2 separate regions of the Homo sapiens genome follow, and region 2 is linked to region 1. The links come from fine-mapping of genetic effects on gene expression. Tissue or cell type: whole blood. Region 1 holds a variant in brackets; the other region holds the start of a gene. All regions are shown on one strand. Distances are between the middles of the regions.

Region 1 (8,107 bases):
AACACTCAAGGGGGATATGTCCTCATTGGGGTGGATGATAAGAGCAAAGAAGTGGTTGGATGTAAGTGGGAAAAAGTGAATCCTGACTTACTAAAAAAAGAAATCGAAAACTGCATAGAAAAATTGCCTACATTCCACTTCTGCTGTGAGAAGCCAAAGGTAAATTTCACTACAAAAATCCTGAATGTGTACCAAAAAGATGTCCTGGATGGTTATGTCTGTGTGATTCAAGTGGAGCCCTTCTGTTGCGTGGTGTTTGCAGAGGCCCCAGATTCCTGGATCATGAAAGACAATTCTGTCACACGGCTGACAGCTGAGCAGTGGGTGGTCATGATGCTGGATACTCAGTCAGGTAAAGGGAAGTGAAGTCATTGTCCCCATCAGCAGGGAGGAACCCCTTTCTCTGCCTTTTGTGGGTATTTGATCACATATGTTAGTTAAAAAATAGAAATTTATTTTTCTTATAAGTGTTCTCCCATTACAGTGTTCCTTATCTAACATTTTTAGTTCCAAAGACTCAGAATATAAACTGAGGTCAAGAAATGTTTGGATTCTATGGCCTAAACAACTTTTTTTTCTTTAGACTCTGTCACCCAGGCTGGAGTGCAGTGGTGTGACCTCGGCTCACTGCAAACTCCACCTCCCAGGTGCAAGTGATTCTCGTGCTTCAGCCTCCCAAGTAGCTGGGATTACAGGCACACACCACCATGTCGGCTAATTTTTGTATTTTTAATAGAGATGGGGTTTTGCCATGTTGCCCAGGCTGGTCTTGAACTTCTAACCTCAAGTGATCAACTCACCTCCACCTCCCAAACTGCTGGGATTACAGGTGTGAGCCACCACTCCTGGCCAGCCTAAGCAACTTTTAAAGGAAAGTTACAGTATGCCATCAGCAATGAGTTAGGAAAGGTCTCCTTTTATTGTCTATAAACCTGTTGAAAAAATTGTGCAGGCTGATCATCCCAGTCAAAATTGGAATAGCCTCATTTTAGAGATGATATTCTAGAGAAACACTGTTTAAGAATAACTCTGAGGCTGGGCGCAGTCCTAGCACTTTGGGAGGCCAAGGTGGGCAGATTGCCTAAGCCCAGGAGTTTGAGACCAGCCTGGCCAAAATAGCGAAGCCCTATCTCTCCCCCAAATATAAAAATTAGCCAGGCGTGGTGGTGTATGCCTGTAGTCCCAGCTACATGGGAGGCTGAGGTGGGAGGATTGCTTGAGCCTGGGAGGTGGAGGTTGTAGTCAGCCAAGATCACTCCACTGCACTCCAGCCTAAGCAACAGAGCGAGACCCCGTCTCAAAAAAATAAATAAATAAAAATAAAAAAATAAAAATAAATGACTCCACTACTCCACTAATTCTTTCAAGCAAAACATTGTTGACAAATTTGAATTGTTTCAGTAACATTAGGAGCTAATAACCTTAAGCCACTGGGCTTAGGGCACCACCAAGTGGGGGAAAATGATGCAAAAGGAGATGCTAGGGCAAGGGGGTGCTGGGGGGAGCAGGACCCCTGGTGTTCTCACTTACCTTTCAGTTTTGATTGGAATCAGCCTTGGTGATTCCTAATCAATCCATAAAGGACTATAGGCCGAACTACGCCTATCTGCTTGCCTTCACGGCCAGTATGTTCCAGATTTCATCAAAACTTGAGTGATTGGAGAATTTTATTGGGTCATTCTTTCTCTTAATTTGTTTGAGTTCACTTCTCTTCTCCTCTCCCCTAAAGATCCTGCCACTTTTGATTCCATCTAACCTTAGATGGGGACATAAACAACTGTAACAACATTTTTTTTTTTTTTTGAGACAGGGTCTTGCTTTGTCGCCTAGGCTGGAGTGCAGCGGCACGATCTCAGCTCACTGCAGCCTCCGCCTCCCAGGTTCAAGCAATTCTCCCACCTCAGCCTCCCGAGCAGCTGGGATTACAGGCACACCACCACGCCCAGCTAATTTTTGTATTTTTTTGTATTTTTTTTTTTTTTTGAGACGGAGTCTCGCTCTGTCACCCAGGCTGGAGTGCAGTGGCGCTATCTCGGCTCACTGCAAGCTCCGTCTCCTGGGTTCACCCCATTCTCCTGCCTCAGCCTCCCGAATAGGTGGGACTACAGGCGCCGGCCACCATGCCTGGCTAATTTTTTTTGTTTTTAGTAGAGACGGGGTTTCACCGTGTTAGCCAGGATGGTCTTGATCTCCTGACCTCGTGATCCGCCTGCCTCGGCCTCCCAAAGTGCTGGGATTACAGGTGTGAGCCATCACATCTGGCCAACACCATTTTTAAAATACTGTGCTTTAATCCTTGCTGATCCCCACTAGATGCCTTTTCTTCTTAGAGATAACCTGGAGTCAGAATATTATAATTGAAAGGAAGCTTAGGGATTATTACTTCACTCCAGCGTGAGAGAGAGGTGAAATGACTTGCTCAAGCCGAGTCACACAGTGACTTAGAATATGTGTGATATGTCCCCTGTAGGAATCCCCAGACTTCCTTTCCTGACATACGTGAGCTGTCTGACGCATAGTAAGTACGACTGCTCAGGCACCCATGCACATCACAGGTCTCCAGTAAGAAGAGCCAAAAAAAGAGGCTTTTTTTTTTTTTTTTTTAACTTTTTATTTTTTGTCTGAAACAACTTTCCATGTAATTGTCTAGCTCCTCCCAGTTTGGTCACAGACTACAACTCTTGCCTGATTTCATCAGCTTCATCTGCACGAAAAAGTCCCGGATATCCCATAAAAGTCCACAAATTTAAGGAGGCTCTGCAACGACATTTGTTTCCAGGTATTCCCTCTTGATTTCAACTTAGGGGACTATTTGTTTTCTAAAATTGAGTTGGGAGGTGTTAGTAGTAATGAGTTCAGGTGTTTCTCCTTAGGGAAGGTCAAATGAAGGACTTAGCGACATAATGATCCTGAAATTTGAAATATATATATTATATATATAATATATATATGACTGAAAACAAGGGTCATATATATACTTATTTAAAATAATTATTAATATTTATTATTAATTTATTATATAATTATTATATATAATTATATATAATATTTATATATCTATATATCTGACCCTTGTTTCCAGTCATCTGATTCCCACTATTACTATTTCTGTGTGCCTTCCAACTTCTCATAACATATGGCTTTTGTTTTCCAAATTTGAGAGTGCAGGGAATTTCTCAGGTCTCAACCATCAAAAAACTGCCCCTAGCTTTCCAATGCAGAAGGAGCCATTGGGTTATCTGAACTTCTTCTAAAGCAGGGTTTCTCAACCTTAGCACTATTGTCATTTGAGTCAGATAACTCTTTGCTGGGGGAGGGAGAGCCCTGTGAATTGTAGAATACTTAGCAGCATTCCTATCTGGTACCTACTACATACCAGTAGCTCCCCTCCAATTGTGACAATAAAAAATTCTCAGGCCGGGCATGGTGGCTCATGCCTGTAATCCCAGCACTTTGGGAGGCCAAGGCGGGTGACCTCAACTGAGGTCAGGAGTTTGAGACCAGCCTAGCCAACATGGTGAAACGCTGTCTCTACTAAAAATACAAAAATTAGCCAGGTGTGGTGGCATGTGACTGTAATCTCAGCTACTCCAGAGGCTGAGGCAGAAGAATCACTGGAACCAGGGAGGCAGAGGCTGCAGTGAGCCAAGATCACACCACTGCACTCCAGTCTGGGTGACAGCGAGACTCCGTCTCACAAAAAAAGAAAAAATTTTCCAGACATTGCCAAATGTCCGTGGGGATGGGGGAGAGTTGGGGAGTAAAACTGCTCCTGATTAAGAATCACAATTCTAAAGGAAAGCTCTTATTTTCCCAAATGCACCAGGTATCATTTTTTTCTGCAACGTTGCAGGAATACTTACCACATGCTTTTGTAAGTTTTGGTAACATCTATTCCTTGAATTTTCAGTGACACAGGAAGAGGTACAATTTAAACCAGAATCCCTCTGTAAGAAGCTGTTCTCAGATCATAAAGAACTGGAGGGTTTAATGAAGACCCTGATACATCCTTGTTCTCAGGGGATTGTGATATTTTCTAGAAGCTGGGCTGGTGATGTTGGCTTCAGGAAAGAACAGAATGTCCTGTGTGATGCTCTCCTGATAGCAGTTAACAGCCCCGTGGTACTCTATACAATCTTAATAGACCCCAATTGGCCTGGAGGACTTGAATATGCCCGAAACACAGCTCATCAGTTAAAGCAGAAACTGCAAACTGTTGGTGGTTACACAGGGAAAGTGTGCATCATTCCAAGGCTGATACACCTGAGCAGCACACAGAGTAGACCTGGTGAGATCCCCCTGCGTTACCCCAGGTCCTACAGGCTTGCTGATGAGGAGGAAATGGAAGACTTGCTGCAGGCTCTGGTGGTGGTCTCCCTGTCCTCCAGATCTCTTCTGAGTGACCAGATGGGCTGTGAATTTTTCAACTTGCTCATAATGGAGCAGAGCCAGTTGCTTTCTGAGAGTCTTCAGAAGACACGTGAATTATTCATCTACTGCTTTCCAGGAGTCAGGAAGACAGCCCTAGCCATAAAGATCATGGAGAAAATTAAGGACTTGTTTCACTGCAAACCAAAAGAGATCCTCTATGTTTGTGAAAGCGACTCCCTAAAGGATTTTGTGACGTAAGAGTTTTACCAACTACACACACACAAAAATATGTATGTGTATATATATATGTGTATATATATGTGTATATATAT[G/ATG]TGTATATATATATGTATATATATGTGTATATATATACACATATATATATATTCTTTTTGCAGTTGCAAGATTTAATAGAGTGAAAACAGAGCTCCCATACAAAGGGAGGGGACCCAAAGAGGGTAGCCGTTGCCAGCTTGAATGCCTGGGTTTATATCCCGATCATTGTCCCTCCTGCTGTGCTCTCAGGCAATAGATGATTGGCTATTTCTTTACCTCTTGTTTTTGCCTAATTAGCATTTTAGTGAGCTCTCTTTCTTATCTGATTGGTCGGGTGTGAGCTAAGTTGCAAGCCCCATGTTTAAAGGTGGAAGTGGTCACCTTCCCAGCTAGGCTTAGGGATTTTTAGTCAGCCTAGGAAATCCAGCTAGTCCTGTCTCTCAGTGCCCCCCTCAACAGGAAAACCCAAGTGCTATTGGGGAAGTTGGCCGACCACCGCTCTAACTGCTTCCTGCTGAATTGGGGCGTAGTAGGGGTTCTGCAGTTGAGATTTCCTCGGGAGGGGTGCCTTTGATGTCATTAACATTGGAGCATGGGCTAGCAGGCCGGTCCAGGGGTCCGTGGTAGATTTTACTCATGGATTGCATCTGGGGCTCCATTTGAAGAACCATTTGTAGCTTTGCAGCTTCGATTCTGGAAGAGACAAACTTAACAAGGAGGTTAAAGATACAGGGTCCAATTAACAAGGAGGTTAAAGATACAGGGTCCAAAGAGGAGTAACAATATTATAGCTGCTAGAGGTCCTAAGAAGGGGAGAATCCGGGGCATCCATTGGCTGAGGAGGCCCCAGGGGCCAGTGTTTTGAAGCTCCTCTGCTCTACGTTGTATTCGATCTCGAATTTCTTTAACTTTTTGGTGACGATTCCGGATTGATTAACATAATAACAGCATTCTTCCCCTAAAAATAAACAGGTTCCCCCTCTTTCGGCGGCTAGCAAGTCTAAAGCTCTTCTATTTTGAACGACTACTGCTGCTAGGGAGTTAAGTTGATCTTGCAAGGTGACCAGGGAGTCAGAGACCCGTTCCATGTCACCATTTAGTTCTTGAGATAGTTTGTAGTAGAACTGAATAGAGGTTGTGATACCGCCAGTGCCAGTACCTACTCCACCTAGCACTCCTGCTCCGATAACAAAAGGAAGAATGGGTACCCTTTTGTTGCGGGGCTTAGGTACGACATGATTGTATAAATCTTGTTCAGTGTAGATGGTCATAGGGGGCGCTAAGAATGAGAGGAAGCATATAGATTCTGAAGAGCCATTCAAACAACGATAGGCTGAGGTACCACAGACAAAAAATATTCCTGAGGGTAGGCAGACTATTCGTGTGGGAAGAGTTACCCACCTGATGTGCTGGGAGTTGGTTGCACACACACACAAAAATATATTTAGTCAGTCTTTTCAAGAGTGTCACAAAAGTGATTTGTGTTTTTAGTTTAAGTTTTTGCAGTGCCTTAGTTGCATAAGTGCAAGAGCCCAAACTATATACACATTTCCAAATAATCATGGAATTGAGCTGTAAACAGGTAATTTATAATGTTCAACCTTAAACATCTCATTATAAATAACCCACATGTGCATAACTTACATTTACAGAACCAGAAACTTTTTTTTTTCTCACAATCCATGGCCTTACATTTAAGAGAAGTAGAAATGAACCCATTCTGCTTTAAGTATACTTTCTGTTTGATATGTAATGTTTTAAAGTCATAGGGTATTTCTGCTAATTAGACATTGTACCTAGTGAAACTTGAATTTAAATACAGTTTGATTTTGTTCATAAAATATTTTCATTTTTGACTTGTTCTGCATCAGTAATTTTAGAAAATATGCAAATTCACTTCTGATTTAAATCTCTAACTTTTAATTTAGTAAAATGAATTGGTCATTATAGAATTCAGCAAAAGAGGGCAAAATCATTATGATTTTTGGCTTGGTTTTGTTATTCAATAAATCTTTTTGAGCACTGTTGATGTGGTATCTACTGTGCTACATTTAGTGTTAGAGGAGAAAACATATTGAAGACCTTGCCATAAAAAAAACAATGTGAGTATTGTATAATAATAAAGACATGCTCATTTTAATTAACTAATTAATTAATTTATTTTTGAGACGGAGTCTTGCTGTGTCAACCAGGCTGGAGTGCAGTGGCACGATCTCAGCTCACTGCAAACTCTGTCTCCTGGGTTCAAGTGATTCTCTTGCCTCAGCCTCCCGAGTAGCTGGGATTACAAGTGTGCATCACCACGCCTAGCTAATTTTTGTATTTTTAGTAGAGACGGGGTTTCACCATGTTGGCCAGGCTGGTCTTGAACTCCTGACCTCAGGTGATCCGCCCACCTCCTTCTCGCAAAGTGCTGGGATTACAGGCGTGAGCCACTGCACCTGGCCTCATGCCCATTTTAACAGGCTAGAGGTTGGTTGGTAAATATTCCCCAGTGAAGGAGACCATTGGGCACACTGTTAAGAAGTCAGCAGGAGAAGTGAATCAAATAGGGGAGGGCTTTCCAGGCAAAGGGCACAGCAAGTTCAAAGACATGGAGACACCAGAGAACCAGAATGGTAGGTCTGACTAGAGCTGTGCAGACTGTGGGTATACAGCAGGTGGTGATGTTGAAAAGGAGGTAGACGCCAGATTATCAGGGATCCTGTAGACTGTGCTGAGGACTACGTTCTTTATTAAGTTTCATAGCTAAGTTTGAAAATACTCCAGTCAAAAGGCTAACTCAACAAATATCTATGAAACCCTTAATGTGAGAGGGATACAAAGATGGCTAAGAATCAGTACTTTTATTTGAGTCCACACAGTCCAAACCAGAAGAGAAGAACATAGTTATGATTCAAGGCATAGGGAGTAAAGGCCCTAGGAACTGCATATGTAAAATCATGGAATCTGTAGGGATGAGTGATGTTACTTGGATCCAAATTAAAGGAGGCAAAAAACAACCAAATTCGTTCAGAAAAAATACATATATGCTAAAGCGTACTATAAAGGAAAATTGAGCTAAGTAAATGAGGTAGCTCCAAAGAGGCATAGCCCCATAGATTTGGTACCCTACTTGATGTGTCGTGGAACTCAGCATCCTCTTGATGTTTCTCTTACCAAAATCTAAAGAAGCTTTAGAGGAATTTGAACTAGTCCGTGCTTTTTTTGCACATAAAAATTATGATATGCATCGAGGAAACTGTTTTCCAGCTCTAAAGAGGATAGAAAGTAAAGAAATGGTAGTAAGAAGTGTAAGTTAACTTTGAGATTTCCTTTAGATGTAATGAACTTGTCTTCAGGATTGCCAAACAGTAGGAATGGATTACTAATAGACATAATACAATCTGTTACCTGGGTTCATTTCAGAAGTTTCACATGCAGGTTTAACTGGATAACCCCAAAGAGCAAGGTGTAAAATTAT
Region 2 (8,107 bases), 33 kb before region 1:
AAGAAAAATGAAAATAGTGTAAATAAAAACAAATCAGAAGACATGATTGTTGCACAACACTGTCAGTGTACTAAATGCCACTGAACTGTATGCCTTAACCTGGTTAATTTTATGGTACGTGAATTTCACCTCAAAAAAAAATCACATATATATATGATTCAGTGTATCTCTCATATAATGAGTTCTCACCTCATATAATGAGAGATACACTTAATCACATGCTAGATATGGACATAGCCAGAGTCTCCAAAATACAGGATGGCAAAAACTGACGTCTTCATTAGAAGTTACAGCCGGTCGCGGTGGCTCACGCCTGTAATCCCAGCACTTTGGGAGGCGGGCGGATCACAAGGTCAGGAGATCGAGACCATCCTGGCTAACACGGTGAAACCCTGTCTCTACTAAAAATACAAAAAATTAGCCAGGCGTGTGGCGGGCGCCTGTAGTCCCAGCTACTCGGGAAGCTGAGACAGGAGAATGGTGTGAACCCAGGAGGCAGAGCTTGCAGTGAGCCGAGATCGCGCCACTGCACTCCAGCCTGGGCGAAAGAGTGAGACTCCGTCTCAAAAAAAAAAAAAAAAAAAGAAGTTACAGAAAAAGTAAACAAAATAGAGCTAAAGAAAAAAAAAATCTAATATTTGCTGAAGTGCCTCAAAAATCAAGCTGCTCCTATGGGGGGAGAAAATGTTCCTTCAGAAGAGCCAGAGAAATAAGCAAAGCCATGATGGAATTTGAACTCACACTACCTTTCTACCAGATCAAACCAGACAAGTAACGGCTGTTCTGAGGATTTACGGTATGGCCTAAGGCCACTGTTAAACAACAAAGCTGCCAGAGTCAAAGCACATAATCACTCTTACTTGCCCTCGACCAGAGTGTGATGTCACTGCATTTCGGAGAAGGCCTCCCTGCACAGGACTATATATCCAGATTTAACATAACCTAGTTTCTACCAAATATAGGTTGTCAAAGTCCCTCCTCTCCTATATCTCCCTCCAGTTCCCCAAAAGAGAAACTGAGCAGCAAAATAAGATTAATACCTTGGGTAGAATAAGGTCAGAAAAAAATTAATAGGGTCTTAATTCAAATGGCTCTCTGGGAAGCTAAATTAGTTTGTAAAGTCACTAAACCCTTCTTTTCACAAAGTGGGACTTTACAAAGCTCAGTGCTCATAGTGAAAAACTGGCCAAAGTTAACCAAATTATAAAGCAGAAATGTCATTCCAGTAATCTTTTATTATAAAGGTGAGAGGTGCCAAATTCATTTCTAATCAAATATTCAGTAATAATGCAAAGACAATAGCATCATCAGGTATTACCTTGCTCATAAGAAATTATGAGACACAAAAGCTAAAATCACCTGTGATTTCTATTTAAACATAACAGACTACAAAGTAGCTTCTTAATATTATAACGAAGCAAAGGAGTTCAAAAGTTTTACATCTAATTCTTAACCAAAATAACATTAAACTCTGGAAAACCTAAGGCTAGAAGGAAAGAAAGGACAAGAGAAAGGAGAACGTGCCCTATTTAATATATTCCTTGCTCAGCTTCGTTCAAACCTGTGCCTAAAAAGTTAGTATTTCAAAATATGGATCTTTTAAGGAAAGAAAGAATGAAAGAACTGGACTTCCTTGAGTTTCTTCATACACAGTCAGAATATTAGATTTATATTGATTTTACCACCCAGCTTTTAGTGAGGATGTTTGCATTATACATCATCCTTTCTGCTTCCTTGAAAGTTTCAACGGCTAAGATACTGCAAACAGTTCTCACCTTACCAGCACGCTTAGTCATCACTGGAATGTCTTAACACGTTTTCTTATAGAGCTGCACCTCCTTCATCTGCTGCTTTCTATTACTACTTTGTAAGTGTACCCTGAGGCTAAGCAATTGAAGTATACAAGGAAGGTAACTAATCATTTAAATTGATTCTCATTGAGACCACCTTCTTTCTTAGTCATTCTGCCTTTCTAAGCTTAATGCATTTACTTTCTTTTAAACCACAATGGTTATGATAAGTCTTTGGCAGTTTTCAAAACATTTTTTCTTCTCAAAAGTCAAGTTTGGCTGGGCGCGCTGGCTCACGCCTGTAATCACAAAACTTTAGGAGGCCGAAGCGGGAGGATCGCTTGGGCCCAGGAGTTCGAGACCAGACTGGGCTACACAGTAAGACCCTGTCACTAAAAATACAAAAATAAAATAAAATAAAAGTCAAAAGTTTAATGAAGCATCCGCGTGAGTTCAATAAAGGCCTGTCCCCCCCCACCCCACCCCTCCAATAGAAGACTACTCTTGAAAACAAGCAGCATGAACAAATGATTTGGATTCAAATGATAAGGAAATAACAGGACGTTCCAGTTTCTTTACTTTCAGCTTAATCTACAGCCTTTCCCAAACCAGACCATTACTGCAGAGCCCAGAAAAAGAAAAAAAAAAAAAAGATGCTGGGTTAAGATTTGCCCCCATTTGCTTCCCCCTCTCTTACATCGGGTCAATTCTGGAGGTTACTCTTTCCTTCCTCCAAGAGTAAGGAATGCCTCTTCTTTCCCCAGGTGGTCAAGATTCTAGCGATATGCTCCTCCATTACGGAGCAGGGAAGAGGTTGTCTCTTACCCTCAAGTTACCCGAGAGACGACGTTCGCCCATCAATGAGCAAACCTTTGAGGGAATCCCTTTTCCCTTTGGCTTGCTGGACACGTCTCAGCCTCTCAGTGAACGACGCCGAGCGGGGAAGAAAGACGGTTCCCCCCACGGCCTCCAGGCTCTATCAGCCACACCCCTGGCCTCTGGTCCCCCTAAACCCTCAATTCCGAAACACATCTTCCCCTCCTGCCCCCAACTACCTGCTGCCACACCCGAGGATTCCCTCACCGCACCACAGGCATCATGGTAGAGACCCTTTCTCCAACCTTTTCCCTCTCAATGGTCACACCCGACGGTTCCCTGCATCATCAACGGTCACGCTCTTAGGATTTCCTCGCCTCCGCCGGTCTCCGACCCAGCCTGGTGTTACCCTTCTCTCCGTCCCCGACCCCGTCAATTAGGGACACACCCTAAAGGCAACCGCCCTGAACTCACCGGAGGCGGAGGCGAAGGCGAGGGCGGGGGTGGCGGCGGGAGCCGGAGAGCACAGCCCAGGTGGTGGTGTAATGGTTTCCTGCCCGTCACGATTCTTTTCTAGGTCTAAGCCACTGCGCAAAACCCACTTTGCCAGGGACAAAGATGGTGGGCAGGAAACTCTGACGTCAGAGAACGTCGCCGCGTGACGTCATCGGGGTGCGCGGTAGACCTAGAAAGCCTGTGATCTCTTGTCGCCTTCCAGACCCAAAGATTTCCTTTGGTCCCGGCAAGCTAGCCCATCTGGGCCTCAGAGGATGTTAAGTGGCTACTCCAAAGGGATATATTTTAAAAAGCTGACAATGGATTTGTTTCCTCGCACAGAAATTCTCTGAAAAACGTAAACATAGAGATGATGAAATATCCTGTTCCTTTCTGAAAAAACAAAACCCCTCAGCTCATTTTCCTTCCAGGCTCAAGGGCGGACAATGGTGATATAGCCCAGGCCTATATACGGGCAGTGGGGCTAGAGGATAGTGCTGCACGTAAAAGAGGTTGAGGAGGCATTGGATGTGAGTTTGAATCCCTACCCTGAATGTGACTGAGACAGTTAATGTCTCATCAACCTTCTTATCTGTGAAATGAAGACAATGATAGTATCTCTCTCGGGCATGTGAAGTTTAAACCAGATAAATTAGGTAAAGTGCCTAGTATATAATAGGTGTGCTTACACAAAAGTAAGTTTCTTTCGGACACTAAGAGCTAGATTCCAGGACCTGGAACTGGAGAACAAGATTGATGATGTTAAATGAACTAGCTGTCCCTAAGGTTAATTTCAGGGTGTAAGGAAGGATGGAGAGCAAAGTGATGATTTTTCTCACATTTTGCCTATGAACTCTGTGAGTCAAAAAGTGTTTCAGTATTTTAAAACTTCATTCTTAAAAAAGTGATCAGAAGTACATTAAAATTTTGTATAACATACTCATGTATTATTATTTCCTCTGTTATTAAAATAGGGGAATAGGGGAAATTAGAAAGCCAGGTATAAGGTGAGAGAATGCAAACAGTTATGGTAAATCAGATAGCTGCATAATGTTATAGAATATTTTATGACAGAAAATTCATAAAGTGTTAAGCAAAAAAAGGACACCAAACAATACAGTATACAGTATGACTATATATGTATAGAAAAAAAAGGCTAGGATAGGCCAGGCGTGGTGGCTTACACCTGCAATCCCAGCCCTTTAGGAGGCTGAGGTGGGTGGATCACCTGATGTCGGGAGTTTGAGACCAGCCTGGCCAATGTGGTGAAACCCTGTCTCTACTGAAAAAACAAAAATTAGCTGGGGGTGGTGGCACACGCCTATAATCCCGGCTACTCAGGCGGCTGAGGCAGGAGAATGGCTTGATCCCAGGAGGTAGAGGTTGCAATGAGCCCAGATCTCGCCACTGCACTCCAGCCTGAGTAACAAAGCCAGACTCATCTCAAAAGAAAAAAAAAAAAAAAAAGCTTGGATATTCAGCAGAACGTTAAAAGTGGTTATTGCAGGATAGTGAGAGTTTTATTTTTCTTCCTAATATTTTTCTGTATTTTTCAAAGTGTTCTACAATGAACATGTATTTATTTCTATGTTGGGATGTGCCTTTTAAATCATATTGTTGAAAAATATGATACAGAAAAATGCTTTGAAATAAGAAAAAAAAAAAGATACAAAACTCTAAATCCAGAGGAGTATATATACCTATTAGTGGTTCCCTCTGGGTGCTGATTACAAATGTTATCTTCTTTATATTTGTTTTATTTTCCATTCCTTTCTCTGAAAAATGCATATATTTTAAGGAAAAATGAACCAATACTATTTTCAAAATATAGCATCAATCCGAAAGCTTTTCCAACTTCATTCTCTTCCACTTTTGGGTGAAAGTATGGACCAATCTCCCTTCTTTTCACCTTTTGGGACCATCACGGGCTCATAATCTAATGGGAGACCACTCAGGAAACTGTTGACATGATCCAGCCACACGATGATGGTGGTTTAAACAAATAACTGTTGATATTTATTATGATTTTATGTCAGTTACTCTGCTAAGTACATTTTTACATCCGCACCACCTGATAACCAAGTAGGTACTATTACTTCCTCTATTTTAAGAGATACAGAGAAGTTAAAAGGTAGAATTAAGATGGCTGGGCGCGGTGGCTCACGCCTGTAATCCCAACACTTTGGGAGGCTGAGGCGGGCAGATCACGAGGTCAGGAGATCGAGACCATCCTGGCTAACATGGTGAAACCTCATCTCTACTAAAAATACAAAAAAAAAGTAGCAGGGCGTGGTGGCGGGCGCCTATAGTCCCAGCTATTCAGGAGGCTGAGGCAGGAGAATGGCATGAACCTGGAAGGCGGAGCTTGCAGTCACACACACAGACACGCACACACACATACACACACACAAAGGTAGAATTAAGATTTGAACCCAGGAAGTCTGACACTAGGGCTGATAAGGCTTATGTTTTAGGTTAGGGCAAGGGAGGAACGGTGGTACTAGTCACTGAAAATAGGAAAATATAAGAAATGGCAGAAGTTTGGGGAAGAATAGGGAGGTGATGAGTTCATTTTATACGTTAGGTTAGAGTGAAGATCTCTACCCAAGAGGTACTTGATTATATGTGTCTGAAGATAAGGAATGATCTGGAGTTAAATTTGTGAACTGTGAGCATACAGATGATAATTCAATCTGTGGGCATGAACATTATTCATGAAGAATGTGGAGAGTGAGTGCTTGGGGTAGAAACAGATAAACCCAAGAATGCAAAGAGGACTGAGAAGGAGTAGTCAGAGAGGTAGGAGGAAAAGCAGAATAGTATATTTTAGGATGTTTTCAGAGTTTCATGAAAGTAGGGACTATACCAATCTGTTCACTCTTGCACACATGAGGCTAGCCCCATCACACACACACACACAAATTAATATATGTTGACTAAACGCATAAATAAGTGATCAACAATATTAGTTGCCATAGACAGGAGAAGGGCTAAAAAGTGTCTACAGGATTTAGTAACATGGAGGTATTTGATGTTATTGCTGAGAAATCAGTAGAGATATGAAGGCAAAAGTCATACTGCAGATGTTTGAGGATGGATTAGAAATGAGGAAATAAAAACAGGAGTTGCAGATAACTCATAAGAAAGTATGACCAAAGAAAGCAGAAATGGTATCTGAGGAAAACAGTGGCAAGGATTTTTTCTTTCTTGAGGCAGGGTGTTGCACTGTTGCCCAGGCTGGAGTGCAGTGGTGCCATTACAATTCACTGCAGCCTTGACCTCCCAGGCTCAAGCAATCCTCCTACCTAGCCTCCCAAGTAGCTGCGACTACAGGCATGTGTCACCACGCCTAGCTAATTTTCTTTTTTTGTAGAGAGGGGGTCTTGCCATGTTGCCCAGGCTGGTCTGCAACTCCTGGGCTCAAGTGATCCTCCTGCCTTGGCCTCCCCAAATGCTGGGATTATAGGCATGAGCCACCAAACTCAGCCAATTTTTTCAAGTTTAGTTCTATACTCATACATTTTCTCTACACTAACCCTTTAGCATACCATGGTTTTAATTATCTTTCTTACATATATGGCTCCAAAATCTCTTATCTCTAGCCTAGACCTATTCCCCAAATTTCATCACCAAATCGATAACTATACTGCTGGGTTAAATCATAAGGAATGGAGGAGGTTAGAAAAACCTGGTTACAGAGTTGGGCACAGCAGTTTACACCTATGATCCCAGCACTTTGGGAGGCTGAGGTGGGAGGATCACTTGAGCCCAAGAGTTTGAGGCTGTAGTGAGCCATGATCATGCCACTGCACTCCAGCCTGGGTGACAGAGTGAGACCGTCTCTAAAAAGAAAGAGAGAGAGAGAGAGAGAGAGAGAGAGAGAGAGAGAGAGAAAAAACTCGTTCAAGGTACAACTGCTAGCAGACAGAGGTAGATTTCGTAAAGATGTCATTAGAAAAATCTTCAAGAGGCTGGCCGTGGTGGCTCACGCCTGTGATCACAGCACTTTGGGAGGCCAAGGCAGGTGGATCACCTGAGGTCAGGACTTTGAGCCCAGCCTGGCCAACATGGTAAAACCCTGACTCTACTAAAAATACAAAAATTAGCCAGGCATGGTGGCACATGCCTGTAGTCTCAGGTACTAGGGAGGCTGAGGCAGGAGAATTACTTGAACCTGAGAGGAGGAGGTTGCAGTGAGCCGAAATCACACCACTACACTGCAGCCTGGGCAATAAAGTAAGACTCCATCTCAAAAAAAAAAAAAAAAAAAAAAAAAAAAAAAAAAAAAAAAAGGAAAAGGAAAAAAAAAGAAAAAGAAAAATATTTAAGAGCTTTGATTCATACCTCTCTGCTGTTCAAAAACTTTCATCAACTTCTCATTGCCTAACATGTTTGAAAGCTATTCTTCCCCCAGTTTCCTCCATCTATGTGCTTTCTTTGGTTTTCTCATCTATAAAATGGAGGAAGATAGTAACATCTAATCATAATATTGAACAATGAAATAAATTAAATGTAAAGCACTTAGAACTATGGCTGGCATATAGCATGGACTATGGAACTATTTCCTGTAATTGTGATTATTTTAATAAATTGCACTGAGCTGCTCAAGCCAGAAACCTAGGGGTCATTCCTGATTTCCCTTTCCTTCAACTGCCACATCCAATCCATCTCCAGTTGTCAATTCTACCTTTAAAATCTCAAAGCCGTAGCTGGGCGCTGTGGCTCACACCTGTAATCCCAGCACTTTGGGAGGCCAAGGCAGGTGGATCACAAAGTCAGGAGTTCGTGACCAGCCTGGCCAAGATGATGAAACCCCGTCTCTACTAAAATTAGCCAGGCGTTGTGGTGGGCGCCTGTAATCTCAGCTACTCGGGAGGCTGAGGTACAGAACTGCTTGAACCCGGGAGGCAGAGGTTGCAGTGAGCCGAGATTGCGCCACTGCACTCCATCCTGGGCAACAGAGCAAGACTGTCTCAAAAAAAAAAAAAAAAAAAAAAAAAACAACA

Evidence for each region. PIP is the estimated chance that this variant, and not a neighbour inherited with it, causes the effect.
Region 2: AP2B1 starts here. The variant in region 1 is fine-mapped to the expression of AP2B1 in whole blood (INTERVAL, PIP 0.98).

Annotation. Positions count from the first base shown.
Region 1 is chr17:35,549,248-35,557,354 of GRCh38, reverse strand. SLFN14 (schlafen family member 14) reads left to right here. Exons shown (of 6, transcript NM_001129820.2): 3 at 1-352; 4 at 2,651-2,779; 5 at 3,911-4,625. It overlaps LOC107985033 (a long non-coding RNA gene), which reads right to left and starts at 4,150. Exons shown (of 2, transcript NR_138032.1): 1 at 3,864-4,150; 2 at 1,806-2,757. The variant G/ATG (reference allele first, on the strand shown) is at 4,704.
Region 2 is chr17:35,582,402-35,590,508 of GRCh38, reverse strand. It overlaps AP2B1 (adaptor related protein complex 2 subunit beta 1), which reads right to left and starts at 3,187. Exons shown (of 22, transcript NM_001030006.2): 1 at 3,081-3,187. RefSeq lists enhancers at 2,671-2,780, 2,042-3,241, 3,211-3,380 and a silencer at 3,011-3,130.